4 separate regions of the Homo sapiens genome follow, and all the other regions are linked to region 1. The links come from fine-mapping of genetic effects on gene expression. A gene starts in region 1. Each other region holds a variant in brackets. All regions are shown on one strand. Distances are between the middles of the regions.

Region 1 (8,215 bases):
CCTCCCGGGGCATTGTGAGCACATCAACTCAATAACGCGCACATGGCAGCCTGTTACCAGAATTAGAAATGTCTAGTTTGGCAACTTGCCCCTTGAAGTCTCCCATCCCACCATGGAGCAACTCTACTCATGGGAACCCACCCTGAAGAAATCATCAGAAACACAAAAATAATTTTAAAGACAAAGTACAGAATCACTTATAATTGCCCATTAATTAGAAATACTATATATCCAATGACAAAGGAATAATACTTAAATTATGATCTAGTCTCGGCCAGGCGCAGTGGCTCACGCCTGTAATCCCAGCACTTTGGGAGGCCGAGGTGGGCGGATCACCCGAGGTCAGGAGTTCGAGACCAGCCTAGCCAACATGGTGAAACCCCGTCTCTACTAAAAATACACAAATTAGCCAGGCATGGTGGCGGGCGCCTGTAATCCCAGCTACTCGGGAGGCTGAGGCAGGAGAATCGCTTGAACCTGGGAGGCGGAGGTTGCAGTGAGCCGAGATCATGCCATTATGCTCCAGTCTGGGCGACAGAGCAAGACTCTGTCTCAAAAAAAAAAAAAAAAAAAAAAGATCTAGTCTCTTGATGAAGAATTAAGCTGCTATTAAATATGATTTTCATAACGAAATATGCAACTCCCATACGACCCCACCGTGGCACTCCTGTGGACTTATCCCAGAACAATGAAGGCTGTTCACATAAAAGCTTGAACACATGAACACAAATGTTCATAGCAGCTTTATCTGGAACAGCCAAAATCTGGAGTCAGCCTAGATGTCCTTCAACGTGGAAATGGTTAAACAAACCGTGGTCGACCCATACCTTTGAATACCACTCAAGAATGGCAAAGAATGAACTCCTGATGCATCAAACAACCTGGGCTAATCTCCAGAGAATTAAACCAGTCCCCTAAAGTTACACATCATATGCTTCCATTTATATGTGTTCTTGAAATAATAAAATGGTAGAAGCCGAGAAGATTAGTAGTTGCCAGTGGTTAGGGATGGGGTCTGTAGGGGTGGGGGTATAAGGGTGGCCTTAAAAGGGTGACAGGAGGGATCCTGGTGATGGAACTGCTCTGTATTTTGACCATGTTAGGATCCTGGTGGTGATATTTTATTATAGTTTTGCAAAATGTTACCATTGGAGGAAACTGGGTAAAGTATACATGGAATCTCTTTGTATTATTTATTACAACTGCATGTGCAGCTATGATTATCTCAAAACAAAAAGTTTAATTAAAAAAAACTAGCCCAGGCATAGTGGCTCATGCCTGTAATCCCAGCACTTTGAGAGGCTGAGGTGGGAGGACTGCTTGAGGTCAGGAGTTCAAGACCAGCCTGGATAACATAAAGAGACCTTGTCTCTTAAAAACAAACAGGCTGGGCGCCATGGCTCATGCCTGTAGTCCCGCGCTTTGAGAGGTAAAGGCAGGCAGATCACTTGAGGTCCGGAGTTCGAGACCACCCTGACCAACAAAGTGAAACCCCGTCTCTACTAAAAATACAAAAATTAGCTGGGCGTGCTGGCATGCACATGTAGTCCCAGCTACTTGGGAGGCTGAGGCAGGAAAATTGCTTGAATCCGGGAGGCAGAGGTTGCAGTGAGCCAAGATTGAGCCACTACACTCCAGCCTGGACAACAGAGCGAAACTCAGTCGCAAATGAACAACACCAAACCAAAAAAAATTAGCTGTGTGTGGTGGTATATCTACTCCCAGCTATTCGGGAGGCTGGGGCAGGAGGATCCCTTGAGCCAAGGACGTCGAGGTTACGGCGATCTCCGATTACACCACTGCATTCCAGTCTGGGTGACAGAGGGAGACCTGGTCTCTTAAAACAGAAAACTAAAAAATGGATTTTAATAGAGTTTATAAGCATGTAAAATGCTTCTGTCATGATACTAAGTGAAAAAAGAAGGAAAATTACATATGCAGTTTAACTACAAGTCCATGAAAAACCACCAGGGCCAGAAAAAAAAAAAGGCGGGAACAGCACACAACCAAGGTGTCAGAGTGGGCCTGCACGTGGCAGTTCCACGGACAGCTTTTTCCTGAAGTACACTTTCTTAATACTTCCCCAGTTTTTCATTACAAGTGTTAGTCTCGTGTGACAGTGGCTTTAAAGCATGTCCACAAATTCTTTGACTTCCCCTTTTGCGAGGTGGAGCTCACTTCCCACTGCTGAGTGTGGGAGCTGGCTGCTTCTGATGAAGAGTGGCAGTGACTGCGTGTGCTTCAGGTGTTACGAAACAAAGAGGCCCTGCGCCTCCCGCCTTGTGTATTCTCACTCTCTTCCTCCCTCCCTCTCATCGCTCAATCTGAGCTGTGAGGATGCTCAAGCAGCGCCACGGAGAGTCCACATGGGACGGGACCAGGGCCTCCTGTCAGTGGCCGTGTGTTGAAACCACCGTGGAAGCAGGCCCTCCAGCCCAGCCAGCAACCATGTCACCACAACCCAGTAAGAGACCCTGGACCAGAACCAGCTAAGCTGCTCCCAGATTCCAGACCCACAGAAACTGGGAGAATAAATGTCTGTTGTTTTAAGCCACTACATTTGGGGCAATTTGTTATGTAGCAACAAATAATATAAGCCACAATACTCATTTGAAAAGAAAAAATACCCAAATCCTACCTAAGCTTGGCTTCTCAAGAAAAGATCAACCAGTAACAGGCCCAAAGGAAACCATGGGGGCTCTGGCTTCAGGGACTCATGTCACTTCAATGCACAAACTCTCCTGGAACTCCTGCCAGCCCAGGTGCATGTGGCAAGCATGGTGAATCAGGGCCAGTCAGCCGAGGGCAGGAGTTGAGTGTCACAGGCCACACCCAAAGGACATGGGGAACTGAGAGGAGGAAAGAGCTCCTGCCTAAAGGCGGAGGCTGTGGAAGAAAAGGAGAAGGGCTGAGGCCAGAGGGGGCCACCGAGGAAGAACCATGAACGCGAGGGCTTATGCACGCAGGAGGTCACAGAAAGACAGGTTCTTGGGAATCCATGCATCAAGGCAGGGGTGGGGGCATCCAGAGCCAGCTGCTGCCGCCATGGCCAACACAGGGGCCTATTCAAGCATTTGGCAAGAACTGGGGACTGGCAAGGCTATGGGTGAAGGAGGGGCCTGAGAACTCATTCAGGCAGGCCCAGCTCAGGGAAGGCAGCTCCACACAAGTTTGGCCAGTGGATCCCCTGCAAACCAGCAGGAAACCCCCCTCGTCCTGCCAGTCCTTGTAGCGCTGCCTCCTCTTCCTCTCGTCTGAGGGCCACTGTGCCCAGAAAACTGCCCCTAAATGCCATGGACTCCTCCTCACTCCCTCTGGAAACTGTGGGCTCCTGGTGCTTACCAGGCCTGAGCTCGGGCTGGGGGAGACTCCGGCCGCCGCTGTGGCTCACGGTCTCGCCCCGGGTGCTACTGCTATTTCCAACAGCCGCTTAGCCTAGACTCTGCTCAGGAAAGGCCAGCGGCTGAGGCAGTGCTGCCCAGCCCACGGACTCCCCATGCCAAGGGCTGCAGCCCCGCAACCTCGCTTCTGGATTCTTCGCTGATCCAGTCACCGGGGAGGGGCTGACTGGCAGCCACACAGAGGTTTCAGCCACTCGCTGCTCTTCAGTGGCAATTCTTATAATACAATCCCCACTCTGACGCAATTTTGTAAGAATGGCTTGGAGTCCAAAAACTTGACTACATTCTACTTCCGTGACAGGGAGAGCATGATCAAGGCCGCTAGGCAGGCCTGCATGCGAGGCACTCTGACAGACGGGGAAGCAAGGGCAGGCGAGACTTCCTTCTAGCTGCGCCCTCCCTCCTTCCCAGGCCTGCAGGAGCCCCGAGCGTAGGACTGGGCTGGTGCCGGCGCAGCAACGCTCCTTCTCACCGGCAGGTGGCGCTGTCTCCCGCGTGGACGGACAGAGACCCATCAGGCGGGGAGGGCCTGGGCGGTGGCGGCGCCCCCTTGGTGGGGCCGCAGAGCGGAGGAGCAGCAGCTGCCACCGGCCGGAAGCCTGCTGGCTCGGCCGAGAACAATGGCCGCCTGTCACTGTGGACAGCTGTCTCCCAGGCTAAGGCAAGGCTGCGCTCCCAGGGAATGCGGGCAGGGAGCCAGGGCGGAGGGCAGAGGACGAGAGCGAGGAGGAGAGCGCGGGCACCCACTGATGCTGGCGGCCTCGGGTATTCGCTTTCTCTCTCTTCTCCCACCTTGTTCCTTTTCCCCGGATGCACGCATGCACTAGTAATGCCGAATTTAGAACAACAGGGAAAGGAAAGGAAATGGCAAAGGAAGGGAAAGGAAATGGCCGACAGGAAATGGCAAGGAAGGGAAAATCCACTGCAACTCTGCTGCCTGCTGGCCTGTCCAGGGACAACTATTCAGCTGGGTGGGACGTTGCTACCCCCTTGTGGCACCCCTGCTGCAGCCTGCGATTCTTACGCCCTGTATTTCTGGTCTAACATCAACCAACACTTTGGCGAAATATAATAAAATGAAATTACTAGGAGAATGAAAGAAAGTCACATGAAATAAAAGCCCTGCTTTTTAATGATTATATCCTCTGTGAAATGGATCTGCAGCCCTCTCCATTTCTGGGTTCCCCTGGCCACACCATGCTTATGGCTGTCCCAGGAGCAGGCTGACAGACAAGCTTCCACCAGCATCTAACCATGGGGCTCATGGACACCGTAGAGCGTCTCCACCCAACAGAATCCTGACTTGGGGGCAGCTGAGGCAGGGGGCCCGAGCGTTGAGGGGACCACGCTGCTGCCCCGAGACCTGCTGGCATGCCACCTGGCCAACCCTGACTTCGCCTGCCCGGGCGCATGTTAACTGAGTTACAACACTGAGGGCACTTGAACCTGGCTGCATGACCAGAGATCGATCACCTGTGAGATCCTCTGTGAAACGGGATAAGCATCTTTAATTTCCTGGGCTGTTCTGGAACTTCAGTCAGACAGGACACAGGAGGGTGTCTGCACCACCCACCCCTGCCTCGTGGGCTGACTGGGAACTATATGACCTGTGGAGGGCTGTGACCGCCACCCTCCACCTCACTGGGGCCGCAAGCCTTCTCTGCTCCTTGATTCTGCTGCCGTTGTGAGCGAGGGCCCCAGCACCCTTAGGGACCCCAATCAATGGGCTTCCCACAATGTCGTCACCCTTTGTTGCCTGCTAAGCAGCCCTGGGGCCACCTCAGAAGAAACAGAACTCACAGGTCACAGGGGCCTTTTCCTCCTCGTCATCGTCCTCCTCCTCTTCTTCTTCCTCCCTGGGCAACTTCCTGAATTCGGAAAGGTCTGTCTGTAGCAGCTGTGAAACTGCTTCGTGGGCCAGAGCAGCAGCAAGTGGTGGCGGGGCCTTCCTAGGGATGAGGAGGGGGAAGTGAGGGGCAGCCCCCAGCAGGAGACCACACCTAGCCCCCCTTCCCCAACTGTCAGCCCACATGCTGAGGGGTCACGGCCAGCAGGGCGGCCCCTGTCCTCAGGGAGCTGGGACAGGAAGGTCACAGGACAGCAAAGGCAGACGCACAACCATCTGGTGGGGAGCTGGACCATACTTGAGCCTGCGGCTAGTTGGGAGGGGGCTGTTGATGGGCAAGTAAACTGCCTGACATCCATGCTGATGATGGCTCCTGGCCACAGGAGGGCAGAGGAATCACCCATGCCAGCTGGGGACCCTGGGGGGTGGGGAGTGTTCTGGGTTGAATTGTGTCCCCCCTAAATTCATACACTGAGGCCCTAACCCCCAGTACCTCAGAATGGAGCTCATTTGGAAACAGGGTCATTACAGATGGAATTAGTTAAGATGACGTCATGCTGGAGCAGGCTGGGCCCCTACTCCAATGACTGATGTCTCTATGAAAAAGGGAATTTGGGCCGGGTGCGGTGGCTCACATCTGTAATCCCAGTACTTTGGGAGGCCAAGGCAGGTAGATCACGAGGTCAGGAGTTTGAGACCAGCCTGGCCAACATGGTAAAACCTCATCTCTACTAAAAATACAAAAATTAGCCGGGTGTGGTGGCGCATGCCTGTAGTTCCAGCTACTCAGGAGGCTGAGGCAGAAGAATTGCTTGAACCTGGGAGGTGGAGGTTGCAGTGAGCCAAGATTGTGCCACTGCACTCCAGCCTAGGCGACAGAGCAAGATGCTGTCTCCAAAAAAAAAAAACAGGTTGGGGGAGGAATTTGGACACAGACACACACACACAGAGAGAATGCCAGGGGAACATGAGGCAGAGACCTGGGGGATGAACCTACAAGCCAGGGAATGCCAAGGGTTGCCCACAAACCACCAGAAGGAGCCAGTTCTGTCAATATCCTGATCTCAGATGACAGCCTCCAGCACCATGAAGCACACTTCTGTTGTTTAAGCTGCTGGGTCTGTGGTCATTTGTACAGCAGCTCCAGGAAGCTGATCCTGGGGTGTGGGACCCATGGGCACACTCAGCAGAGGAAGTGGCTGTGCGTGGTCCACAAGGTCCCTGGGCGGATGGGGCCATAGGAGCTGCCGGGGTGAGGGGCTGTGGGAACAGGGCAGGCCAAGCTTTATGCTAACAGGGAAGCACTGCCATTGGTCTGTGTTTTATTTATTTATTTTTAGAGACAGGGTCTTGCTCTGTCTCCCAGGCTGGAGCACAGCTGTGCAATCATGGCTCGCTGCAGCCTCAAACCCCTGGGCTCAAGAGATCCTCTCACCTCAGACTCCAGAGTAGTTAGGGCTACAGGCAGTAGTTAGGGCTACAGACATCACCATGTCCAGCTAATCTGTAAATTTTTTTGTACAGGTGGGGTTTTGCTATGTTGTCCAGGCTGGTCTTGAACTCCTGCCCTCAAGTGATCCTCCCATCTCAGCCTCCCAAAGCCCTGGGATAATGGCGTGAGCCGCCACACCTGGCCGCCTTTGGTCTGTTTGAAGAGGGACATGGCATGATCAGATGGGGCTTTTAGGCCTCTCTGACCCTGGTGTGGAGGGTGGGCTGGCAAGAAGGGGACGACTGTCTAAAGGAGAGAGTCTAAGACCTGGGCTGGGCAGGGCCATGGTGACAAACAGGAGCAGACAGAGTCGGGCAGTATAAATGGAGGGGCAGGGACAGTGTTGAAGTTTCTATTCTGAGCAACTAGAAGGCTCGTGGTACAGTTAATTACCCTGATGGGGATGGAAGAGTCAGGCAGGGGATGGGCAATGGGCTCTGTTTCCACAGCGACTTGTGTTCCACGGAGGTCAAGAGGCCTGAGGGCCTGCAAGAACATGGTCTGGGCAGGAGATGGAGCTGCGGAATGAATGAGGATAGGGGGCTGAGTCCCACAGGGCCAGAGCATGGCTAGCAAAGTGGGGATGACTCCAGGAGTGGCCTTCTGGGTGCCACGAAGGAAATGTTTTAAGAAGTGAGATTGGGTCACTGCTTTCAATGTCATAGAACAGAGCTGAGCAGTTGAGGAGGCGTAGTGGGTAGAAAGGGAGGTCGCAGCAGGCTGAAAGCAAACCGACAGGAGGGTTAGCGTCTTTTAGCAGGTAGGCAGGGCAGAAGAGAGCCACGGGGCAGATCAGGGAAAGAAACACTGAAGCCATCTGTGGCTGAGAAGGAGGGCAGTGGGGAGGAGTGTCTAAAATTCTGAGCCATCCCTGGCTTTTCTGGGCAGAAGGGGTCGCTCCCTCAGTGGCCCTATGGCCTCTAACATGCATTTTGACCCCTGGAATCTGCCTTCTCACCCAGTGGGGGCCCTGGAAGCTGGACAACACACATTCACCCCTGTGTGCCTGTCCCTGAGAGTGGGGGTCAGGGGAGCATGCCTGGGGTGGCGAGGTGATTCTGCACTGGGCCGACACTCCCGGCTTTAACTGGAAGGCGAGGACCTTCCAACAGCACAGGCTGACAGGTCTTGTTCCATGGGGGCTGGGCACCCAAGGTATCTACTGATGGTCTGAGGAATCTACCGGGATGGATTCCTGATTTTTTTTTTTTTTTTTCTGAGACGGAGTTTCGCTCTAGTTGCCCAGGCTGGAGTGCAATGGCGTGATCTCAGCTCACCACAACCTCCACCTCTCGGGTTCAAGTGATTCTCCTGCCTCAGCCTCCTGAGTAGCTGGGATTACAGGCATGAGCCACCATGCTCAGCAGATTCGTGATTTTTAAAATGAAAGGGTGACTCATGGGAGAAGCCTCTGGAACTGCCTTTGAAAAACAACCAGCCAAGACATGAGAAATTAGTTCCTCTGCCATTTGGGGG
Region 2 (8,215 bases), 58 kb before region 1:
TTTTGCTGGGGTGGTGGGAAGTGAATGTGAGTCTGTGGCCAGACATGCCACGATGCAAGAAACACCCTCCGAGAGGAAGACAGAGATGAAGACAATTCCTTCCTGCTGCAGTTTGAGGCTGTATATAGCTAAGCCTGAACTTTAGGTTTCTGTCACTTAAAGCCATAAGAGTTCTGACTAATGCACTACCCAATTAACTCATTTTTCTGCAGAAATTGCTCAGAACTGTGCAATAAATTGTGAGACATGAATCAGAAACTCATGAATGATGAAATGAGAGAAAAGAACTGGCAATGAGCCTTGAAACTAGCTAAAGATAGAGAGATAACGGAATAAAAACACCACTCAGTAGAGACTGATACTGATAAGTTGAAATAATTGTTGCTATGGTAACAAACAAAATGCAAAATAAAAAGTTGAGAACGAAGATCTTTAAAAATAGGGTTTTAAACCTGAGATTATGCAGTGGAAACCAGGGGAGAAGAAAGAGGATAGAAAAGCCAGAGACTATGTCTTTGTTTTATGTAACATGAGGATAAAAGTTATTTAAAAAAATATATAAGTTCATATAATTTTTCAGTGTAAAAAGCCTTATGTATACCTTATAATTCATTACATGAGACGAAAGGAACAACGTAATTCATACAGCAAAAATCAAGAGTCTTAGGAAGTATACTAGATACTTTCCTCACATTTGTAAATTAAAAAAAGAAATGGCAAGAAATTATAAACAAGAATATCAAAACACCAGAAAATTAGAAAATTAGATGAGCAAAGGTTAGATTACGTATAACAAGCCAAATGTAAACAAGTAAAAATGTAAACTTCTAAAATTACTATTTAAAATATTAAAACTTCAGATCACATCAAAAAGCAAACTGAATATATACTGTTGTTTAAAAAGATATGCCTATTTATGTGTGTGTATATATATAGTATGTATATGCATATATATACATATTAGTAGTATGTATACTAATAATATATATAATATAAAAAGGCTTTGTTACTGGACATGGTGGCTCACACCTGTAATCCCACTGCTTTGAGAGGCTGAGGTGGGAGGATTACTTGAGGCCAGGAGTTCAAGACCAGCCAGGTCAACATAGCAAGACTCTGTCTCTACAAAAATAAAAATTAAAAAATTAACTGAGTGTGGTGGTACACACTTGTAGTTCCAGCTATCCAGGAGGCTGAGGCAGGAGAATCCCTTAAGCTCAGGAGTTAGAGGCTGCGGTAAGCTATGATCACATCACTGCACTCCAGCCTGGCCAACAGAGCAAAATCCTGTCTCAAAAAAAAAAAAAGGCATTGTGAAACTAAAGGCACCAAATAACATAACAACACAAAACAAGAAGCAGAGCCGGGTGTGGTGGCACATACCTATCGTCCCAGCTACTCAGGAGACAGAGGCTGGAGGATCACTTAAGACTATTAAGACTGGAAGTTTGAAGCTGTAGTGCCATATGATCATGCTTGTGAATATGCACTGCATTCCAGCCTGGGCAACATAACAAGATCTTGTCTCTTTAAAAAAAAAAAAAAGTCGGCCGGGCGCGGTGGCTCACGCCTGTAATCCCAGCACTTTGGGAGGCCGAGGCGGGTGGATCATGAGGTCAGTAGATCGAGACCATCCTGGCTAACAAGGTGAAACCCCGTCTCTACTAAAAAAATACAAAAAATTAGCCGGGCGCGGTGGCGGGCGCCTGTAGTCCCAGCTACTCGGGAGGCTGAGGCAGGAGAATGGCGTGAACCCGGGAAGCGGAGCTTGCAGTGAGCCGAGATTGCGCCACTGCAGTCCGCAGTCCGGCCTGGGCGACAGAGCGAGACTCCGTCTCAAAAAAAAAAAAAAAAAGTCTATAGGAACACAGCTAATAGAAACACAGTTATAGGCTGGGCTCAGAGGCTCACACCTGTAATCCCAGTGTTTTGGGAGGCCAAAGCAGGAGGATTTCTTGAGGCCAGGAGTTACAGATCATCCTGGGCAATGTAGCGAAGCCCCTCTCTAAAAAAAAAAAGTTTTAAAAATTAGTCACGTGTGGTGGCATGCATCTGCAGTCCTATCTACTTGGGAGACTGACATGGAAGGATGGCTTGAGCTCAGGAGTTTGAGGCTGCAGTGAACTATAATTATAGTAAAATATGATATACCATTATCAGACTGTGACATATAAACAAAAATAAAGATGAGCTAAACAGCAGAATTAGTAAGGTATAAAAACTTACGCTGTGTCCTCCACCTACATAAAATACATCACCACCACTCCCAGTATCTCTGGAACATTGACAACAACTTATCCTTTACTGGACCACAAAATTTGTTTGTTTGTTTTTTTTTTTTTTTGAGATGTAGTTTCGCTCTGTTGCCCAGGCTGGAGTGCAGTGGCACGGTCTCAGCTCACTGCAACCTCCATCTCCCTGGTTCAAGCAATTCTCCTGCCTCAGCTTCCCAAGTAGCTGTGATCACAGGCACCCACTGCCACGCCCTAAGTTTTGTATTTTTAGTAGAGACTGGGTTTCACCATGTTTGCCAGGCTGGTCTCCAACTCCAGCCCTCAGGTGATCTGCCCACCTCGGCCTCCCAAAGTGCTGGGATTACAGGCATGAGCTACCACACCTGGCCCACAAAATTTTTTAATAAATCCAAATAAGCAAAAATTGTTGAGGTCAAATCCTCTGATCACAGCACAGTTTAACAAATGAACAATCATACGAAGTTTAAAATTAACAAACATCCTACTAAGTGCTTTATTAGAACATTAGCAGACATTCTACTAAGATTTCAGTCAGATGGCCGGACGCGGTGGCTTACACCTGTAATCCCAGCACTTTGGGAGGCCGAGGAGGGCGGATCAACTGAAGTCAGGAGTTTGGAGACCAGCCTGGCCAACATGGTGAAACCCTGTCTCTACTAAAAATACAAAAATTAGCTGGGCGTGGTGGTGCATGCCTGTAATCCCAGCTACTTGGAGGAGGCTGAGCGAGGAGAATCACTTGAACCTGGGAGGCAGAGGTTGCAGTGAGCCGAAATCGCGTCATTGCTCTCCAGCCTGGGCGACGAGTGAGACTCCATTTAAAAAAAAAAAAAGGTTTCAGTCGGGAAGCCAGGTGCAGTGGCTAGCACCTATAATCCCAGCACTTTGGGAGGCTGAGGCAGGTGGATCACTTGAGGTCAGCAGTTCAAGACCAGCCTGGCCAACATGGTGAAACCCAAATTAGCCAGGCGTGGTGGCAGGTGCCTGTAATCCCAGCTACTTGGAAGGCTGAGGCAGGAGAATCACTTGAGCCCAGGAGGCAAAGGTTGCAGTGAGCCGAAATTGGGCCGTTGCACTCCATCTTGGGCGAGTGAGACTCTGTCTCTCAAAAAAAAAAAAAAGGTTTCAACCAGAAAGGAAATAATACAGTAACAGGCCAGGAGCATGATGGCTAACACCCGCAATCTCAGCCCTTTAGGAAGCAGAGGTGAGAAAATTGCCTGAGGCCAGGAGTTTGAGACCAGCCTGGGCAACAAAGTGAGACCCTGTCTCTAAAAAAATTCAAAAAATAGGCCGGGCACGGTGACTAATGCCTGTAATCCCAGCACTTTGGGAGGCTGTGGTGGGCGGATCACGAGGTCAAGAGATCGAGACCATCCTGGCCAACATGGCAAAACCCCGTCTCTACTCTAAATACAAAAATTAGCTGGGCATAGTGGCGTGCGCCTGTAGTCCCAGCTATTCAGGAGGCTGAGGCAGAATTGCTTGAAACCAGGAGGCGGAGGTTGCAGTGAGCCAAGATCATGCCACTGCACTCCAGCCTGGCAACAGAGAGAGACACCATCTCAAAAAGAAAAAAAACAGAAAAAATTTTTTAAAAAAATTAGCTGACTGTGGTGGTGCATGCCTATAGTCCCAGCTGCTCGGGAGGCTGAGGGTGGAGGATCCCTGGAGCCTGGGAGTTCCAAGTTACAGTGAGCTATGATTGAGGCTCACTGCATCCTCAACCTCCTGGGCTCAAGCCATCCTCCTACCTCAGTCTCCCAAGTAGCTGGGACTACAGGTGTGTGCCACCATGCCCAGCTCATTTTTTTATTGTTTGTAGAGACAAGATCTTGGTATGTTGCCCAGGCTGGTCTCAAACTCCTAGGCTCAAGCAATCCTGCCTTGGTCTCCCAAAGTGCTGGGATTATAGGTGTGAGTCACTGTTCCCAGCCGAGACACTGTCTCATAAAAAGAAAAGAAAAGAAAAAAAAAAAAAAGGCTGGGTGCAGTGGTTCACACCTGTAATCCCAGCACTTTGGGAGGCAGAGGCAGGCAGATCACCTGAGGTCAGGAGTTTGAGACCAGCCTGACCAACATGGCAAAACGCTGTCCCTACTAAAAACACTAAAAATTAGCTGGGCGTGGTGGCAGGCACCTGTAATC[G/A]CAGCTACATGGGAGGCTGAGGCAGGGAGAATTGCCTGCACCTGGGAGGCAGAGGTTGCAGTGAGCTGAGATCATGCCACTGCACTCCAGCCTCGGCAACAGAGCAACACTTTAAAAAAAAAAAAAAAGAAGAAGAAGAAAGAAGGAGAGATAGAGAAAAGCAAAGAGGAGAAGAGAAAAGAAAGAAAAGAAAAGAGAGAGGCTGGGCATGGTGGCTCATGCCAGTAACCACAGCACTTTGGGAGGCCAAGGTGGGCGGATCACGAGGTCAGGAGATCAAGACCATCCTGGCTAACATGGTGAAACCTTGTCTCTACTTAAAATACAAAAACATTAGCCGGGCGTGGTGGCGGGCGCCTGTAGTCCCAGCTACTTAGGAGGCTGAGGCAGGAGAATGGCATGAACCCAGGAGGCGGAGCATGCAATGAGCCGAGGTCGTGCCACTGTACTCCAGCCTGGGTGACAGAGCGAGACTCCGTCTCAAAAGAGAGAGAGAGAGGGAGGGAGGGAGAGAGAGAGAGAAAAAAAAAAGAGAGATGCAGTAACACTCTTTGGAAAATCATGAAAATAATACAACTACTACTACAAACTTGGAAGACAATTCCTTTAATATTAGGCTGGGGTGGCCCCTGGCATTGATATTATATAACATTGCTTTGGCCCAAATAAGAGCAGCTGCCTTTTATCTCCTTTTCGGGGTTCCTCTTATCTGCCCATTCCTTAAATTCTAGTGTGTCCTCCCCTTACCAGTTAGAATCTTTCAGCTGTAAGTCCAAAAAGCCCTAAGTCAAACACGAACAGGACCAGGGTGAGCTGAGTGAGGCACCTGGGGTGTACATTTAAGGAGATGCTCACTCTCAGGGTTGGCAAGTGTAGCATCAGCATCCGAGAGTGAGCACCTCCTTCAATATTCTGTCCTAGGTGCTCAACTAGGACACAACTTTGGTTCTGGCCAAACTCAGTTGGTACAAACAGTAAAGGCACATGCTTTCTCATCTAACACAGGTAGGGGTCTGACTCCTCTTCTCTGCTCTTTTTGAGGCACTGCCCTCCTCTCTGTGTTGGCATTATCCTCAAGCAAGTCGGGAGGTGGCTGTAGTGGATCCAGACAGCACGTGGTACCACACTATTCAAAGGCAGAAAGGGACTGTCCCTCTGGGAGCCTCCTCAGGAGTAAGAAGCCCCCCAGCAGCAGCAGTCTTCCCCTCATGCTTCACTGGCATGCTAGGTTGCATGCCCACCCTATCTAATCACCATTTCTACTTATAGTATTTTCTAGTTTTTTTTGTTTTTTGTTTTTTGTTTTTTTTGAGAGGGAGTCTTGCACTGTCACCCAGGCTGGAGTGCAATGGCGTGATCTCAGCTCACTGCAACCTCTGCCTCCCAGGTTCAAGCAATTATCCTGCCTCAGCCTCCTGAGTAGCTGGGATTACAGGTGCCTGTCACCATGTCTGGCTAATTTTTGTACTTTTAGTAGAGTCAGGGTTTCGCCATGTTGGCCAGGCTGTTCTTGAACTCCTGACCTCAGGTGATCCACCTGCCTCAGCCTCCCAAGTATTGGGATTACAGGCGTGAGCCACCGTGCCCGGTCGAGAACTGTTCTTAATTTAAAAAAATGAATTAACTTACAGTAAAACTGACTTTTAAAATGTACACAGTAGTAGTTCTATTAGTCTTTTGGTTTTTGGTTTGTGTTTTTTTTGAGGCAGAGTCTCACTCTGTTGCCCAAGCTGGAGTGCAGTGGCATGATCATGGCTCACTTCAGCCTTGACCTCCTAAGCTCAAGGGATTCTCTCACCTCAGCCTCCCTAGTAGCTAGGACTATAGGCATGTAACACCATGTCCAGCTAATTTTTTTTTTTTTTTATTGATCATTCTTGGGTGTTTCTCGCAGAGGGGGATTTGGCAGGGTCACAGGACAATAGTGGAGGGAAGGTCAGCAGATAAACAAGTGAACAAAGGTCTCTGGTTTTCCTAGGCAGAGGACCCCGCGGCCTTCCGCAGTGTTTGTGTCCCTGGGTACTTGAGATTAGGGAGTGGTGATGACTCTTAACGAGCATGCTGCTTTCAAGCGTCTGTTTAACAAAGCACATCTTGCACCGCCCTTAATCCATTTAACCCTGAGTGGACACAGCACATGTTTCAGAGAGCACAGGGTTGGGGGTAAGGTCACAGATCAACAGGATCCCAAGGCAGAAGAATTTTTCTTAGTACAGAACAAAATGAAAAGTCTCCCATGTCTACCTCTTTCTACACAGACATGGCAACCATCCGATTTCTCAATCTTTTCCCCACCTTTCCCCCCTTTCTATTCCACAAAACTGCCATTGTCATCATGGCCCGTTCTCAATGGGCTGTTGGGTACACCTCTCAGACGGGGTGGTGGCCGGGCAGAGGGGCTCCTCACTTCCCAGTAGGGGCGGCCGGGCAGAGGCGCCCCTCACCTCCCGGACGGGGCGGCTGGCCGGGCGGGGGGCTGACCCCCCCACCTCCCTCCCGGACGGGGCGGCTGGCCGGGCGGGGGGCTGACCCCCCCACCTCCCTCCCGGACGGGGCGGCTGGCCGGGCAGAGGGGCTCCTCACTTCCCAGTAGGGGCGGCCGGGCAGAGGCGCCCCTCACCTCCCGGACGGGGCGGCTGGCCGGGTGGGGGGCTGACCCCCTCCCTCCCTCCCGGACGGGGCGGCTGGCCAGGCGGGGGGCTGACCCCCCCACCTCCCTCCCGGATGGGGCAGCTGGCCAGGCAGAGGGGCTCCTCACTTCCCAGTAGGGGCGGCCGGGCAGAGGCGCCCCTCACCTCCCGGATGGGGCGGCTGGCCAGGCGGGGGGCTGACCCCCCCACCTCCCTCCCGGACGGGGTGGCTGCCGGGCGGAGACGCTCCTCACTTCCCAGACGGGGTGGCTGCCGGGCGGAGGGGCTCCTCACTTCTCAGACGGGACGGCTGCTGGGCGGAGGGGCTCCTCACTTCTCAGACAGGGCGGTTGCCAGGCAGAGGGTCTCCTCACTTCTCAGACCGGGCGGCCGGGCAGAGACGCTCCTCACATCCTGGACGGGGCGACAGGGCAGAGGCGCTCCCCACATCTCAGACGATGGACGGCCGGGCAGAGACGCTCCTCACTTCCTAGATGAGATGGCGGCCGGGAAGAGGCACTCCTCACTTCCTAGATGGGATGGTGGCTGGGCAGAGACGCTCCTCACTTTCCAGACTGGGCAGCCAGGCAGAGGGGCTCCTCATATCCCAGACGATGGGCGGCCAGGCAGAGACGCTCCTCACTTCCCAGACGGGGTGGCGGCCGGGCAGAGGCTGCAATCTCGGCACTTTGGGAGGCCAAGGCAGGCTGCTGGGAGGTGGATGTTGTAGCGAGCCGAGATCACGCCACTGCACTCCAGCCTGGGCACCATTGAGCACTGAGTGAACGAGACTCCGTCTGCAATCCCGGCACCTCGGGAGGCCGAGGCTGGCGGATCACTCGCGGTTAAGAGCTGGAGACCAGCCCGGCCAACACAGCGAAACCCCGTCTCCACCCAAAAAATACGAAAACCAGTCAGGCCTGGCGGCGCGCGCCTGCAATCGCAGGCACTCGGTAGGCTGAGGCAGGAGAATCAGGCAGGGAGGTTGCAGTGAGCCGAGATGGCAGCAGTACAGTCCAGCTTCGGCTCGGCATCAGAGGGAGACCGTGGAAAGAGGGGAGAGGGAGAGGGAGAGGGAGCTCTTATTTTTATAAAGCTAAAAATATCAATTGTACAAACACCCTAGGGTAGGGAAAAAAAACAAAAAAAACCTCTATTCTAGATAGTAACCAACTTTATCCT
Region 3 (8,215 bases), 20 kb after region 1:
GGCAAGCACCACCACGCCCAGCTGATTAAAAAAAATTTGTAGAGACAGGGTCTCTATGTTGCCCAGGCTGGTCTTGAACTCTTGGGCTCAAGTGATCCTCCTGCCTCAGCCTTCCCAAGTGCTGGGATTATAGGTGTGAACCATTACACCTGGCCAAAATATTTTATTTTAAAGGCAGAAGAAAGAAACCTTTATGTCAAAGAAAATGTTTTAATATATGATATTAATATATTCACCTTTATACCAATGCCGTTGGAAAGTATAATTTTTTAAATGGAGGATGGGGCACCAGATCTTATGTGGCTCTGCCCACCTGACCTTCAGGTCCGCAGGCCTGTGTCCTTGCCAGGAATGAATGTCTCTGGGATGCTTCTCTAACAGGAGGAACCTGGAGTGAGACCAGGAACCTGGAGAACTAGCAGCTGGGTGACTGGAAAGGAAACCATCTGGGGTGGGGTTGGGTCTGCAAGGCAGGAGGTGTCTGGGCAGAGAAAGCAGGGCTGGGGCGGAGGGTCCTGCCTCATCCCATTCTCCTGCTCACTCTTTCCTAGATCCCTGTCAGGGCAGTAACCATGAGCAAGGCTTGAGGCTACTTCTTATAAACAGTGGCCCTGGGCACATTCCTTAGCTCACCTGAGCCTCAGTTTCTTGATGAGAAAAAATCGGGACAATAGCAACCAACCTATCTCAGAGGGCTGCTGTGAGACCCTGAGCCACTGTTTCTCAAACTGCCCCTGAGATCACCTACAACAGAATGGCTGTAGGGTGAAGTTTGAGAACCGCAGTACAGGTGAGGTGGTGCGTGGGGCAGGCCCTCCCACACTGTAAAGTGCAGTGTGGTGCGGTAAAAGCTGATATTCCCGCAGGCATCCTCAGAGTGGGCCCAATTAGACTCTTGAGCACTGATTCCATTCAAGGTCTGCGGCTTAGAGAGGATGGCAAAGTGAGGCACCACCAGGAGCTTGTCCCTATGGGCTCCAGGCCAAGGACGTGCCTGGAGATGACTCCTGCCTTGTGGCGCTGTCACTGCCTCACTGTCCACATTCCATCACGCCTCAGATCCTGGCTTCCACCCTGGTGAAAGGAATCTTTCAATATCACCCACCCAGCCACAGACGCTTCTCTGCTTCTCTGGCAAGGCTGCACCCCTGGCTAGGTGGGCAGGGCCAGGGGCTCCTTGAGACAGTCTGCAGCCACTGACCTCTCCAGCCTCCAGGGCAGAGGTACAGTCCCATGGAGCGTGGCTGATCTGAAGGCAGTTCTGGCCTAAAAGGGGTCTTGTCCCTTCCTTGTCCTCATTGCTCCCAAGGCCAGGTTGGCAGCAGTAGCAGCGGGGTTGGATGCTATTGGATGGGAGAAGGTGAATGGACTCGGAGTGCAGAATCAAGCTGCGGAAGCCAAGGGCCTTGAAGGAGGGTCACACACAAGGGACAACTGCAGAGGAAAATAAAGGAACACTTTGTGATTAGCCCTGCCTGTGGCTGAAAGCGCAGTGCAGAAGCATAGTAAGGAAGGACTGGGTGGTCTGGGTTTAAGACCTAGGAACCGTCTCTGCTCCTCCAAGCCTGAATGAGCCCTATAACCTAAGGGTCCTGGAGGTCTTGAAACCTTCTGCGGAGAAGGCTCCAGGTCCACTGGGCCCTGTGGGTGGAAGAGCAGAGTCACAGCCCCGCACTGGGGACCTAACAGGTGTGGCCTTGCTAGGGCCCCAGAATGGGACCAGAGTGGGTGGGAGGGGGCAGAAGCTCTGAGAGCACCCCCTCCTTCCTGAAGCCTGTGCTTCTGAGACACATCCCAGGACCCTCTATGTGGTTCCCCATGTCTCTGTATTTTCATTCAGCTTCGAGTAGCTCTCCAAACTGTGTTCCAGGGAACCCCCGTGTTAACCTGTGAGGGCCTCCAGGAAGGGGGTCCAGGGGGGGTATGCTTGGTGGGCTCTGGGTTTCCTTACAGGAGCTCTCATATAAGTCCTGGTGCAGCCTGGGAATCTACTACTGAGTTGGGGCGGGGGCGGGTCTGAGTCCGAAACATTCCTGACCTGCCCCTCAAAGAAAGGTCCCACTGAACAGTCTGGAAAGCTGTTTTGCTGAGCTCCCGTCATCACTCAATGAGGCACGGGCGGAGTGTGGAGGGAGTTTCCAACACACAGTGGATCCCGCACAGGTGTCTCTCCTCGGGTGGCTGGGGAGGGGAGCACAAGAAGGCACTGAGGTCAGAGGGCAGCTGCCACCAGCACCTGGCACCACACGGCAGTCTGGCCTACAGGGTATTTTCTAAACCTGGCATGTGAATGGGTTCCATGGGGCACCCAGCTGCCTCTAAGACCATAAGGGCTTGTTGTGAGAATGGGAATTGCAGCAGGTCCTGGGAAGCTGCCAGACGCACACGGGCACCATGTACAGGGCTTCTCAGAGATGGGAGCAGGGAGCAGGGGACGGAGAAGTGTGGGGTCAAGAGCGTGGCCCTGAGCAGGGGGCTGCAGCGAAGACCAAGGGGATTCATAAGCCAGATCCGGGGAGGGGGTCTCCCAGCCCCACCTGCTCCACTAGACTCCTCTCCTGCCGGAGCCACAGCTGTCAAGGCCGCCTTCCTTAAGGCATCAGGGCCACTGCTTGTGCACACAGCTACCATCAGCAGCACGGATTGAGATGGGGTGTGAGTGCAAACTGGGTCTATTCCCCAGGGCTTCAGGGTTGGGGCATCCCTGCCCGTACTGCCAGGGTGTAGGGATAGCAGGGAGCACTCTGGGCACGTGTATGCAGGCTGAAGGGAGACGTATTGGGTTTCGGAGAGGGAGAGAGGGCCCCACAGGTGCCCAGGGACACGGTAACGCTCTGACATCGCTGCACCAGCAAAGGGGCCCCAGCTCTGGATAAGATAAAATGCATTTTAATAGTTTGAAGTGCCATGAGGTGTCTGCATGGCACTGCAGCCTGGGTGAGGGAGGACAGGGTCATCATACAAAGTAGGCGGCCAGGGCTGACATCTTGTCCTTGGGCCGTCTGGGGTTGGGCTTCCCAGGGGGCCTCCTGGCCCGGCCCCGCCCTCGACCCTGCCTTCTCCCTGGTCCACCGCGGTGCATGGGGTGGCAGGAGGCCGCATGCTTCAGCTCCACCAGCTCCTGGAAGACGGGGTCACAAAAGACGCAGCCCATGTGCTGCGTCTCATCGCCCGGGAGTGGGGACTTGGCCTTGTTGAAGTCCACATCAAGCAAGGCGGCCTCACAGACACTGCAGGTGTCGGCGGACACCCGCACGCGGTGGGCGTTCTCGAAGCAGTGCGCTACCACGTTGCACTTGTTGCAGGCCACCTTCCACTTGGGGCCCGAGGTGGGGTCCAGCACCAGCACCCCGCTCTCACATTCCACGCACTGGCCGATGCCCAGCATGCTCAGCGAGTGCTGGCAGGAGGGGTGCGTACACTCGTTGCAGCCCATGCCTGGCGGGAGAAGGGAGCCCTGTAAAGGCACGCCCACTGTGCCCACCTGCCCTCTGCTGCCTGCTCCCAATGCCTCAAGCTCCTGGATCCCTCGTCCCAGCAGAAGGAACTCTTCTTGGCCTTGCTCTTGGGGACAGCCTTGCTCATGTTTCGGCTCCTGGCTGCCATTACCCCTGTTTTCTGCTTACCTGAAACCTCCTCAACTTTCAAGGCCCCTCGCTGGCACCATCCCAGTGGGTTTCAGCTGACTCCATCCCCCCTTTGCTTTGCTGCCAGCTTGTTACTGGTAATGCCACATGACCCTCATGTCACTGGGCCACATGGAACCACCCTGTCAGCTACTCTGGCGGCAGCAGGAGGGCAGGGATGGGGTCTCACTCCCGGGGCAGCCTGGGTGCAGACTGAGGCCTGAGGGAGCTTTCTGCAGAGCACACGGTGAATGTGGGCAGATGCCTCACTCCCGCTGATTCCTGGTCTGGCTCGGTGCTCTGTCCTGCCTGCCTGGACATGCGCTCCCTCCTCCAGTAATGAGGACGAGGATGAGGATGGAGGACGGTGGTGGACGCTGACTGGGGGTGCCCGCTCACCGGGTGGGTCCCCCGACTGCTGCATCCTCTTGCTCACTCAGCTCCAGAGGGAGCACTGCACACCTGTGCCCAGGTCCTGAGGGTGGACTAGGGTTGCCTGCTCGATTCTGACACAGAGAGAGGGTGGCACCACTGGCTGAGGCCTAAGCAGTGCCCCAGCTACATCCAGGGTCTCTCGTCTCAGTGCCAATGAGTGCAGGAAAGGCCAGGGTGAGGGGTCCCCTCAGAGTCCAGCCTGGTGCAAGGCAGGGGTTGGCACTGAAAAGAGACTGCAGCTACCTGTGGACAGGAGGGAGTGGCTGCACTCACCTTTCTTCATGTCTCGGAAGGGTGGGTGGTTGTAGCAGTAGGGGCACAGCGGGTAGCTCTTGCCCCGAGAGCCTGATGACCACAGGACCAGCTCGAAGTCATCCAGAGGGCAGCGGAGCTCCTTGTAGAGCTTGATGGTGCCGTTCTGGGGGAGCGTGTAGGTCTCATCGCAGTGGGAGCAGTGCAGGCGGCTTGGCTTGGCCTGCGGCAATGCCAGGCAGGTGGCGTGAGGGTCACTGGGGCCACCGACTTGGCACCCACCCCCACTCCTCTCATAATACAAAGTATGTAATCTGTCATGCAGAACCTGTGACACACTGCCAGGCAAGGAGCATGAGTCTCTGGCTCTTGCTCCACGCGTGCAGAAAAGGCAGTTCTAAAATCTCTGTGTGTACATTAATGCCCATGATGGCAAGTGGCATGGTGTTAGGGAAAAATGCACCATGTGTGTTTGCGTGGCCTAATGGCTGTGTATTCTAGGGGACGTGGGGACACTGGGTATTTTTTGGCAAGGCCTCTTTATGTTCCATCATTCTTTTGTGACAACCAGGACAAAGAACATGATTCCTGCTGATCAACGATAAAGCTGAGGCCTACAGGGGTGAGGCAGCTTGCCTGAGCTAGTGTTCCCTGCACCTACCTGGATGTACTTCATGAAGCGGTGGCACTTCCCACAGCGTGAGAGGGGCTTGCCTGTGGCCGCCAGGGGCGAGAAAGACACCTCCATCAACTCATCCATGCCTGCGGGCAAGCAGAGTGCAGGAGTCATCTCCCTCCCAGTCCCCAGCAAAAGGCTCCGCAACACGTGGTCAAGGGTCTGAGTGTGAAAGGGTCCCTATAGGCGGTGGTTTCTACTGTCCTGGCAGCACGGCAGGGCAGCAGCCCTGTGCGTCAGAGGCACGTGTTCCTGGCCATGTGTGGTGTTAATGCACCTGCTCTTTCAACCCAGCCAGGAGGTGTCACTG[A/C]CCTGGCCTACGGAGGCCTGAAGCCCAGATCTGGGAGCTGGTCCCACGTGGGGACCTGGGTCCCCAGGTACTGGCCTTGCTGACAGAGAGACACCCCTCTGGTGAGGGGCAGGCCAGAGGCAGACTCTACCAGCAATGGAGTCGACAAAGTAGTGGAACTTCCTCTTGAACACGTCCAGGGTGTGGCCCAGGACCTGGCGGTAGTCGGCCTTGCCCTGGGCGATCAGGTTCAGCTGCTTCTCCACTGCACTGCGGATGGTGGGGAGCACCAGCTCTGCATCTGCAAGTGGGCAGGGGGCAGATATTGCCCTGAGCACTCGCACCCAGGGCCATGCCACCCCTTCCCAGGCAGGGATACTGCCCTGTTCACCCCTCCCGCTCTGGCCCGTCCTCCTGGCCTCTGCCCTACCCACCAGTCCACAGCCTCAGATGGTACCAGGCTGGCTCTTATGACCCCAGACCTTTCCTGATTTCCCACCTGGAAATGTCAGGCAGAGTGGCCAGGGATGTCCTGTGGCTAGAACCACATCACACATGAGCTCCAGGCCGCCCTTGGGCCAGTTTTGTGCTCCTCCCTCTCCCCTTGGCCCCTGGGGAACCTCCAGGGAACAGGGCTGAGGCAACTTCGCCTCCCTTTTTGGTTCCCTCACACATCTGTTCAGCCTTCAAACACACTGAGCTCCTGCTCTGGGCAGGTCCTGGGGGTCCTGGGGCAGCACCCCTTCAGCGGGTGTTGAGGGAGTGTGTGTGGGGCTGGGGGATCACTGTAGGGCAGGGGCCTGTCTGGAGCGGGCAGCAGAGCCAACATCCAGGGAGAAGCCAGGGAGCCTCGGTGGGCCCTGGGGGCAGGACTGAGGAACTCACCAATCTTATAGTAGCCGTGCACCAGGACGATGCCGAGGTTGGTGGGCTTGAGCCGGCGCCCGCTCTCCACCGTGACATAGTTGCGCTGGCAGATGTTGTTGATATGCACAGGGATGCTGGCATCCGTGCCTGCAATGTACAAGGCCCCAGGGTTCCTGGCCTGCCTTGGACATGCCCCACTGAACCATGTGCTGTATCACCTGTCACGGGGCCCCTGGTGCTCAGGCCCTCTCACTGCTCCCGGTCACAGGAGGGAGGGCTGTGCCCTGAGCTCCCCCTGCACTGTGCTGGGCACCAACTGCATGCATTTCATGTTCTGCCTTGAGAACACAAGGGCAGCCCTCCCTGTACAGGGCGCCTACTCCTGCTTTATGGCAGAGACAACAGGCTCGGAGGTTAAGGAACTCTCCAAGGTCACAGTGCTTATTCTGCGCCTGGAAAATGTGACTTCTATGGCTTCTCCTGCCTGGGTCCTGTGGCACCCACCTGCTCCCGGAGCCAGAGCCCCACTCCACCAGAACACGGAGGTGCTTACAAGCTCACTGCAGAGCTGCCCTCCCCTAAACCTGGACAATTCTGTCCACTTCCTGTCTCCCACCTCCTCCCTCTCTGCAAGGCCCGTCACGATCCCCAGGGGAGGCTCCCAGTCCCCAGGATTCCACTCTCCCACCCAGAGGAAGTTTCCTGGCAGAGGGGCGCAGCGGAGGCTGAGGCGTTTTGACTATGGCGGGTGCCAGTCAGAGGGGCAGAAAGGAGGCTGGGGCTCCCTGCATGCTCACCAGCATGGACAGGTGACACACACCTTCCCAAAGTAGCTCGGAGAGAATCTCACATGGGAAGAAACTGGCCTCTGGGGGCTAAGGAGCCTGCCGAGGGCCCATGGCTCTTGGCACGAGGCCAGCTCTGCACCCGGTGTGGCAGGCTGTGGGTGGCGTGTGCCACTACCACCCCGAGTCTGCCGGGCGCCATGACGCGTGGTGTGGGCTCCTCTGTGGCGGCTCTGGTCAGGCCCTTTTGACACACTCCTGGGGGCTCAGTCACAGGGCCACCCTGACCACTCTCCTGTTCAGAAGGTAACACCAGAGCCCTCTTCACTGTCACAAACTTGTATTGGTGATTGGGTCTGGCTCACTGGCTAGCATAGGGCTGCCAGGAGCCAGTGTCCCATCAATGCGAGAGGGCAGAGGACACGGGGGAGCAGAGCCCACACTCCACAGTGGGCTGAGGGCTATTTCAGGACCCTGGCAGGTGCCCTGGACCCCTGAGAGGAGCAAGCCCAGAGCTCTGCTCTCCTGCCAAGATCGCCATGGTCACCAGGACCCCAGCCTGGGAAGAGACACTCCCTGAGAGTCCACCTATATGACCACTGCTGGAGCAGAGCCTGGACACAGTGGCTGTGACATCCCACAGGTCTCCAGAGCCTGTCAGCCAGGGGTAGTGCCCCAGGGAACAGGCAGTGCCCAGCGGCGCGAGTGCCACCTGGGGAGAAGGCTCCGGCAGTGAGGCTGGCCCCCAACATGTGAGACATCTCACAGCTCCAGGCCTGGGGACTTGTGAGGCCACCACTCCTGTGAGGAGTGTGCACTGGTGACTACACTTTTGCTTTGATAAACTCCCTGGGCTGCCCATTTTTGCGTGGAAACTTCCTGGTCACCCTTTGGGGAGCCCTGTGCCTGGGACAGGCATTTCTGTTCTCTCCCAGGGAAGCAGCTCCTGTGAGATCTCATTTCCCTGTCACCTGATTTCAGGACAGCCCAGGCTGGCTGTGTGGACTCAGGGGACTGCCAATATGATTTCTATGAGTCACCTGGCATCTGGGCCAATCTTCAGCCTTGTGGGCGTTAGTCGGTGTGTGCACACCCCACAGTGCACGAGGGCACATCTGGGCCTTCACAGGGAAGGCCAGGTCCTGAATGGAGGCCTCAGGAGGGGATGCCCGCTGTGGACCTGCCTGGCTGGCCACACACTGGGTCACCAGTTTCCAGATACCAGCCCATGGAGGGGTGCTGGGCTGGGCACACAGGGCTGGCGGGGCAGCTTTGTGAGTAGACT
Region 4 (5,000 bases), 960 kb after region 1:
AGACTGAACTGGGGCAAAGGACTGTTGGCCTTAACCAGAGAGATTTGAGGGAGAGATGAGGCTGAGAGCCAGGGGATCCTGCCATGTCCCAGCATAAAAACAGTACCTGACACAGATGGGTGCTTGGGAGCTGTTGTCGGATGAATGAGTGGACAGATGCATGGATGGACGGATGGATGGAAGGATGATAGATTGATGGACAAACAGATGAACAGATGAATAGCTGGATGGACAACTGGATGGATGGGTAGACAGAATGATCTCAGAGATCAGAAAAAGCTTCATGCACTAAGTGGGACTGAACCGCGTCTCCATGGGTAGAAAGCAGAGGAATCTCCACTTGAGTCAGGAATGACCCAGTGCTCTCAATCCAGGGAGAAAGCCAGCCTGGCTTCACTGGGGACACTTGTGTGGGGGACTCAGAGGCCCTTTAAATGAGGCCAGACGAGGTTGGACAGGTCCAAGCCAACTCAGCACTCCTCTGCCACACTGCACAGGAGGGGATGTGTCACTCAGGGAGTTGCTGGGACCTATGGGTCCCAGTGTTGTCATCAGCACCGACAGCCTCAGAGAGGAAAGACACACACTGGGGTAACTCCAAGGCTGTGTGTGGCACTTGCCTTGGACAGCAGACAGGCACAGGGACACCTCTAGGGGGCTGGCCACCCCCCTGCCTCATGTCTAGGTCCCAGCCCCGCCCACTGCAACCCTGTGCCCGTCATGCCCAGCAGGCTCCTGCTCCAGCCCAGCCCCCAGAGAGCAGACCCCAGGTGCTGGCCCCGGGGGTTTTGGTCTGAGCCTCAGTCACTGTGTTATGTCTTCGGAACTGGGACCAAGGTCACCGTCCTAGGTAAGTGGCTCTCAACCTTTCCCAGCCTGTCTCACCCTCTGCTGTCCCTGGAAAATCTGTTTTCTCTCTCTGGGGCTTCCTCCCCTCTGTCCTCCCAGCCTTAAGCACTGACCCTTACCTTTCTCCATGGGGCCTGGAGGAGGTGCATTAGTCTCCGGGTAACCGGCAGGAAGGGCCTCCACAGTGGGAGCAGCCGGATGCAGCCTGGTCCCGGGGCCTGAGCTGGGATTGGGCAGGGTCAGGGCTCCTCCTCTCTTCCAGGGCAGATGTCTGAGTGAGGGACAGAGGCTGGTTCTGATGAGGGGCCCTGCAGTGTCCTTAGGGACATTGCCCAGTGACTCCTGGGGTCAAGGACAGAGGCTGCTGGGGTGGGCCTGGGAGCTGCTGAGTCTCATAGTCTAGGGGAGCAGCCCCAAGAACAGCTGAGGGTCTAGGCTGAGGACTGGATGCCAATCCAGCCTGGGAGGGCCACACGGCCTGGTGACACAGAGGTCACCCCAAGGGGAGACCAATGGAGGGCACAGAGAGGGCTCTGGGTCTAGGCTGCAGCTCTGTGGCCTGTGCTGGGTCATGAGGACATGGGGACACAGAGGGACGGGTGAGACTGGGTGAGGTGCCAGAATCCAACCCTCCCAGGACAGTCACCAGAAAGGAGACAGTCTCTTAGGGCAGAGATGTGTCTGTCCCTGGAGCCCCGTCACCTCTGGGGCCCAGTGTCTCTCTGTTCACGGATCGGCCTCCTGCCTTCCTCAAAGGGCATGTTAGACTCAGGAAATGACCAGAGGGGAGTGAATGAGGGGTGCAGAGAACTCCATGGCTACCAGGTGAAGTTTGGGGTCATCACAGGCTGCTGGGGTGGGCCTGGGGGCTGCTGAGTCTCATAGTCTGTGGGAGCAGCCCCAGGAACAGCTGAGGTGAAGGGTTCTGTGGTCGGGCTTGTGGAGACAGGAAACATCTCAGAGCCTCAGAGGAGCCCTGAGGCTTGTCTAGGTGGAGCCCACTCCTTGCCAGGAGAGCCAAGTGGGCTGGGCTGGGGCAGAGCCCGGTGCCTGTGAGGGATAGGAAGCTCCAGTTCAAAGCAGGCTTGGGTCTCCCCACACACTGCCTGCCAGGACAGTCCTACAGGATGAGCAGGGGACCCACAGTTCACGGAGGAGGCTCTAGGTCCTGGAAGAATAAAGTGGGTGATGGAGGGGGGTATAGGGATGGAAATGAGGGATCCAGGGGTCAAGGCCAGATTCTAAACTCAGACTCCAGAGATCAGAGAAGAAGGAACACAGCCTGCCCTGGGTATATGGAGAAATTGAGGCTGTAGAGGAGAGGGGCTGGGCCAGGACACCTGTGAAAGGTGACTTGGGAGGGCTCCTAGGAAGGCACAGAGCTGTCTGCTCTCCACAGGGCATGAGTGGAAAGGATGGGGAAAGAAGAGGAGAGAACCCCGGGTGGACCGGATGGCCACACTGTGAACCCTCCCAGAGACTTTAGACAGAGAGAGGGGCTCCACAACACCCCGGTATTCTGTCTGCCCTCTCTCACCCCCTTCCCTGTCCACACAGGTCAGCCCAAGGCCAACCCCACTGTCACTCTGTTCCCGCCCTCCTCTGAGGAGCTCCAAGCCAACAAGGCCACACTAGTGTGTCTGATCAGTGACTTCTACCCGGGAGCTGTGACAGTGGCCTGGAAGGCAGATGGCAGCCCCGTCAAGGCGGGAGTGGAGACCACCAAACCCTCCAAACAGAGCAACAACAAGTACGCGGCCAGCAGCTACCTGAGCCTGACGCCCGAGCAGTGGAAGTCCCACAGAAGCTACAGCTGCCAGGTCACGCATGAAGGGAGCACCGTGGAGAAGACAGTGGCCCCT[A/G]CAGAATGTTCATAGGTTCCCAACTCTAACCCCACCCACGGGAGCCTGGAGCTGCAGGATCCCAGGGGAGGGGTCTCTCTCCCCATCCCAAGTCATCCAGCCCTTCTCCCTGCACTCATGAAACCCCAATAAATATCCTCATTGACAACCAGAAATCTTGTTTTATCTCATTTTTTTTCTCACATAAATTGCTAGCCTCCCCGGGGTTCTCAGTGTGGGGTACAGGGAATTCTGCACCCAGTGTGAAAATCACCCAAGGGAGGAGGCTCACAGCCTCCCTGAGTCATCTCCCCAGAGGGTCCTTCCTCTCCCAGTCACCCCTTCTCCAACTCTCCACTGTACCCCTGAGCTACCAGTCTGGCATCAGTTCAGACCAGTCCCACACCCTCCTAAATTTTACTTCTCAATAAATACCTGATCATGTAAAACGCAGCATTTCTAATGTGCAGTCTCTGTCTGGTCATGTGTCTGGGCTGAAGGGTCACTGCTCAGGGACAGGGGGCAGTTCCAGGTGAGATCCCATGTCTCCGTCATCCCACACCCCACCCAACCTGCCAGGGAACCGGGTGAGCTCCCTGTGCCAGTGGGAACTGCAATCCAAGGCACAAAATTGTCCTGCAGTCCTTGCCCACCTGGGAAGGGACAGGGGCCCAGTGAGAGGTTTGCTGGCGCCCTGTGGGGAGATTCAGGAGAAATGAAGGGGGTCCCCGGAGACCAGATGAGGGCTAGAGGCAGAAATAATGGAAAAAGGACACCCTTGACTCAAGGCCACGGTCTCAGCAGGAACAGAAGGTGAAATTCCCCATTGCATACGAGGAACCAGTCAGGAGAGTGTTTACTGGGTGAGGGATAAATAACTGTGCTGCCACTGGGAACTTGTAAAAACATTGGGAAAGGAAACATGCAAGTGTCTTTCTAAGACTTGTACAATGGACATTGGCTAAGTAAACATACTGACAAGTCCTGCACTAGGGAACCAGTTTAATATGATGAGCCACAGCATATCCAAAAGCATGTTGATCTCCTTCTTCACCTTTAGAAGACCCAAAACACTCTGAAAGATACCAGCGTTTCCTGGAACTAGTTTGTGGAATATGGGGTGAGGTTGATGCACATGATGTTACGGGTATATGATCACATGGCTGTGGGTTGGGGATCAGGCTCAAAGTTAACACTAGCGTGGGGCTGGATGTCAAGCATGAAGGGTGTGGACCACTAAGTCAGGCCCAGGTAGAGTTAATTTCTGATTGGTTTGTGGCTGGAGCTTGATGATGGTCAGTCTGCAGGAGCAGGAGGATGTGGGGAAATTGGGAAAATGAGAAAAGTCACAAATCCAAGCTCAAACTCTGCATCTATTGATTGCCTGGGGGAGGCTAATCAGAGTTGAATTCAGGATGAGCTTCAGGGCTGGGTCAGACTGAATAAGAGCTGAGTGAATGTGGGCTGATGGCTCCAGGCAAGTCCTGGCCTCCACTAGGAGTCAGATCCCACAAACCCTCCTGCCCGCAGAGCACCCTCTCCCTCCGTAGCTCATGGTGGCGCAGCCTCCCCACCCCATCCCATGTACACCTGCTGCCTCATCTCAGAGACACTCATTCCAGTGTCTCTGACAGCAGATGATGTCAGCCTCCTGGGTGTGGAGACCCCAGCTGTCTTGGAGAGTCCTCAGTGCCTGGGTACTCTCAGACCCCCTGTCTCTGCCTCCAGCACATCAGAGACATAGCAGCTGCCTCCACCAGAGCTGCTGGGTGATCCCAACAGGCCAGGGACAGAGCCTGCAAAGACAGGAATCTCTGCAGTCACAATGAGGCAAAGAAAGAGCCCCTTAGAGCTTGATCACAGCCACCCCTGATCCAAATCCCAGCCTCTCATTAGAAGGAGGCTTGAGGGTTCTGTTGCCACAGCACCTGTCTGAGCCCATTTCATGGAGGGGAAAACTGAGATGACCAAGGGCCAGATCCATAGTCCTGCTGGGCACAAGGCCATCCCCAGCAGCTGCCTAATCTTTGACTGTGTTATAAGTTTCCATTATGGAAAACTTTGAACACATACATAAGGAGACAGAGAAATAATAATGCCCCCAAGTTCCCATCACCCAGCCCCCCCAATAAGCAATTCACAGACATTACTGACCCACCCATAGCAGAATAACCCCTCCATTACACAATACCAGACATCACATCTTTTCAGCTGTAAATATCCCATTTCTATGCTGGAAAGATATGGGCTTAAAAGTAACTGCAATATTATTACCAAACCTAAATAGAAATTATCACTAATTCCCTAATA

Direction of the effects. Positions count from the first base shown, and alleles are read on the strand shown. Sizes are in standard deviations (SD) of each study's normalised expression. Not every link is listed here.
For the expression in cerebellar hemisphere of the gene that starts at base 3,907 in region 1, allele C in region 3 goes with a lower level than allele A (moderate effect, 0.62 SD a copy in GTEx).

The links. PIP is the estimated chance that this variant, and not a neighbour inherited with it, causes the effect. A credible set is the group of variants that fine-mapping cannot tell apart.
Region 2: its variant is the best candidate, but not a certain one, in a credible set for the expression of PPM1F-AS1 in cerebellar hemisphere (GTEx, PIP 0.74).
Region 3: its variant is the best candidate, but not a certain one, in a credible set for the expression of PPM1F-AS1 in cerebellar hemisphere (GTEx, PIP 0.68).
Region 4: its variant is the best candidate, but not a certain one, in a credible set for the expression of PPM1F-AS1 in ovary (GTEx, PIP 0.77).

What each region holds. Positions count from the first base shown.
Region 1 is chr22:21,934,331-21,942,545 of GRCh38, forward strand. It overlaps PPM1F-AS1 (PPM1F antisense RNA 1), which reads left to right and starts at 3,907. Exons shown (of 2, transcript NR_147620.1): 1 at 3,907-5,283; 2 at 6,772-8,215. It overlaps PPM1F (protein phosphatase, Mg2+/Mn2+ dependent 1F), which reads right to left. Exons shown (of 8, transcript NM_014634.4): 3 at 5,202-5,350. RefSeq lists enhancers at 3,524-4,330, 4,331-5,138, 5,139-5,945 and a silencer at 3,882-4,041.
Region 2 is chr22:21,876,689-21,884,903 of GRCh38, forward strand. No RefSeq gene overlaps it. Among named protein-coding and RNA genes, the nearest start is that of MAPK1, 13 kb to the left of the region's middle. RefSeq lists an enhancer at 6,135-6,896. The variant G/A (reference allele first, on the strand shown) is at 4,404.
Region 3 is chr22:21,954,158-21,962,372 of GRCh38, forward strand. It overlaps TOP3B (DNA topoisomerase III beta), which reads right to left. Exons shown (of 18, transcript NM_001282112.2): 14 at 6,164-6,292; 15 at 5,430-5,579; 16 at 4,975-5,075; 17 at 4,335-4,536; 18 at 2,868-3,438. The coding sequence ends at 2,957. Among named protein-coding and RNA genes, the nearest start is that of PPM1F, 5.4 kb to the left of the region's middle. The variant A/C (reference allele first, on the strand shown) is at 5,300.
Region 4 is chr22:22,892,969-22,897,968 of GRCh38, forward strand. IGLL5 (immunoglobulin lambda like polypeptide 5) reads left to right here. Exons shown (of 3, transcript NM_001178126.2): 2 at 732-850; 3 at 2,407-3,143. The coding sequence ends at 2,726. It also overlaps IGL, IGLJ1 and IGLC1. Among named protein-coding and RNA genes, the nearest start is that of IGLL5, 7.7 kb to the left of the region's middle. The variant A/G (reference allele first, on the strand shown) is at 2,712.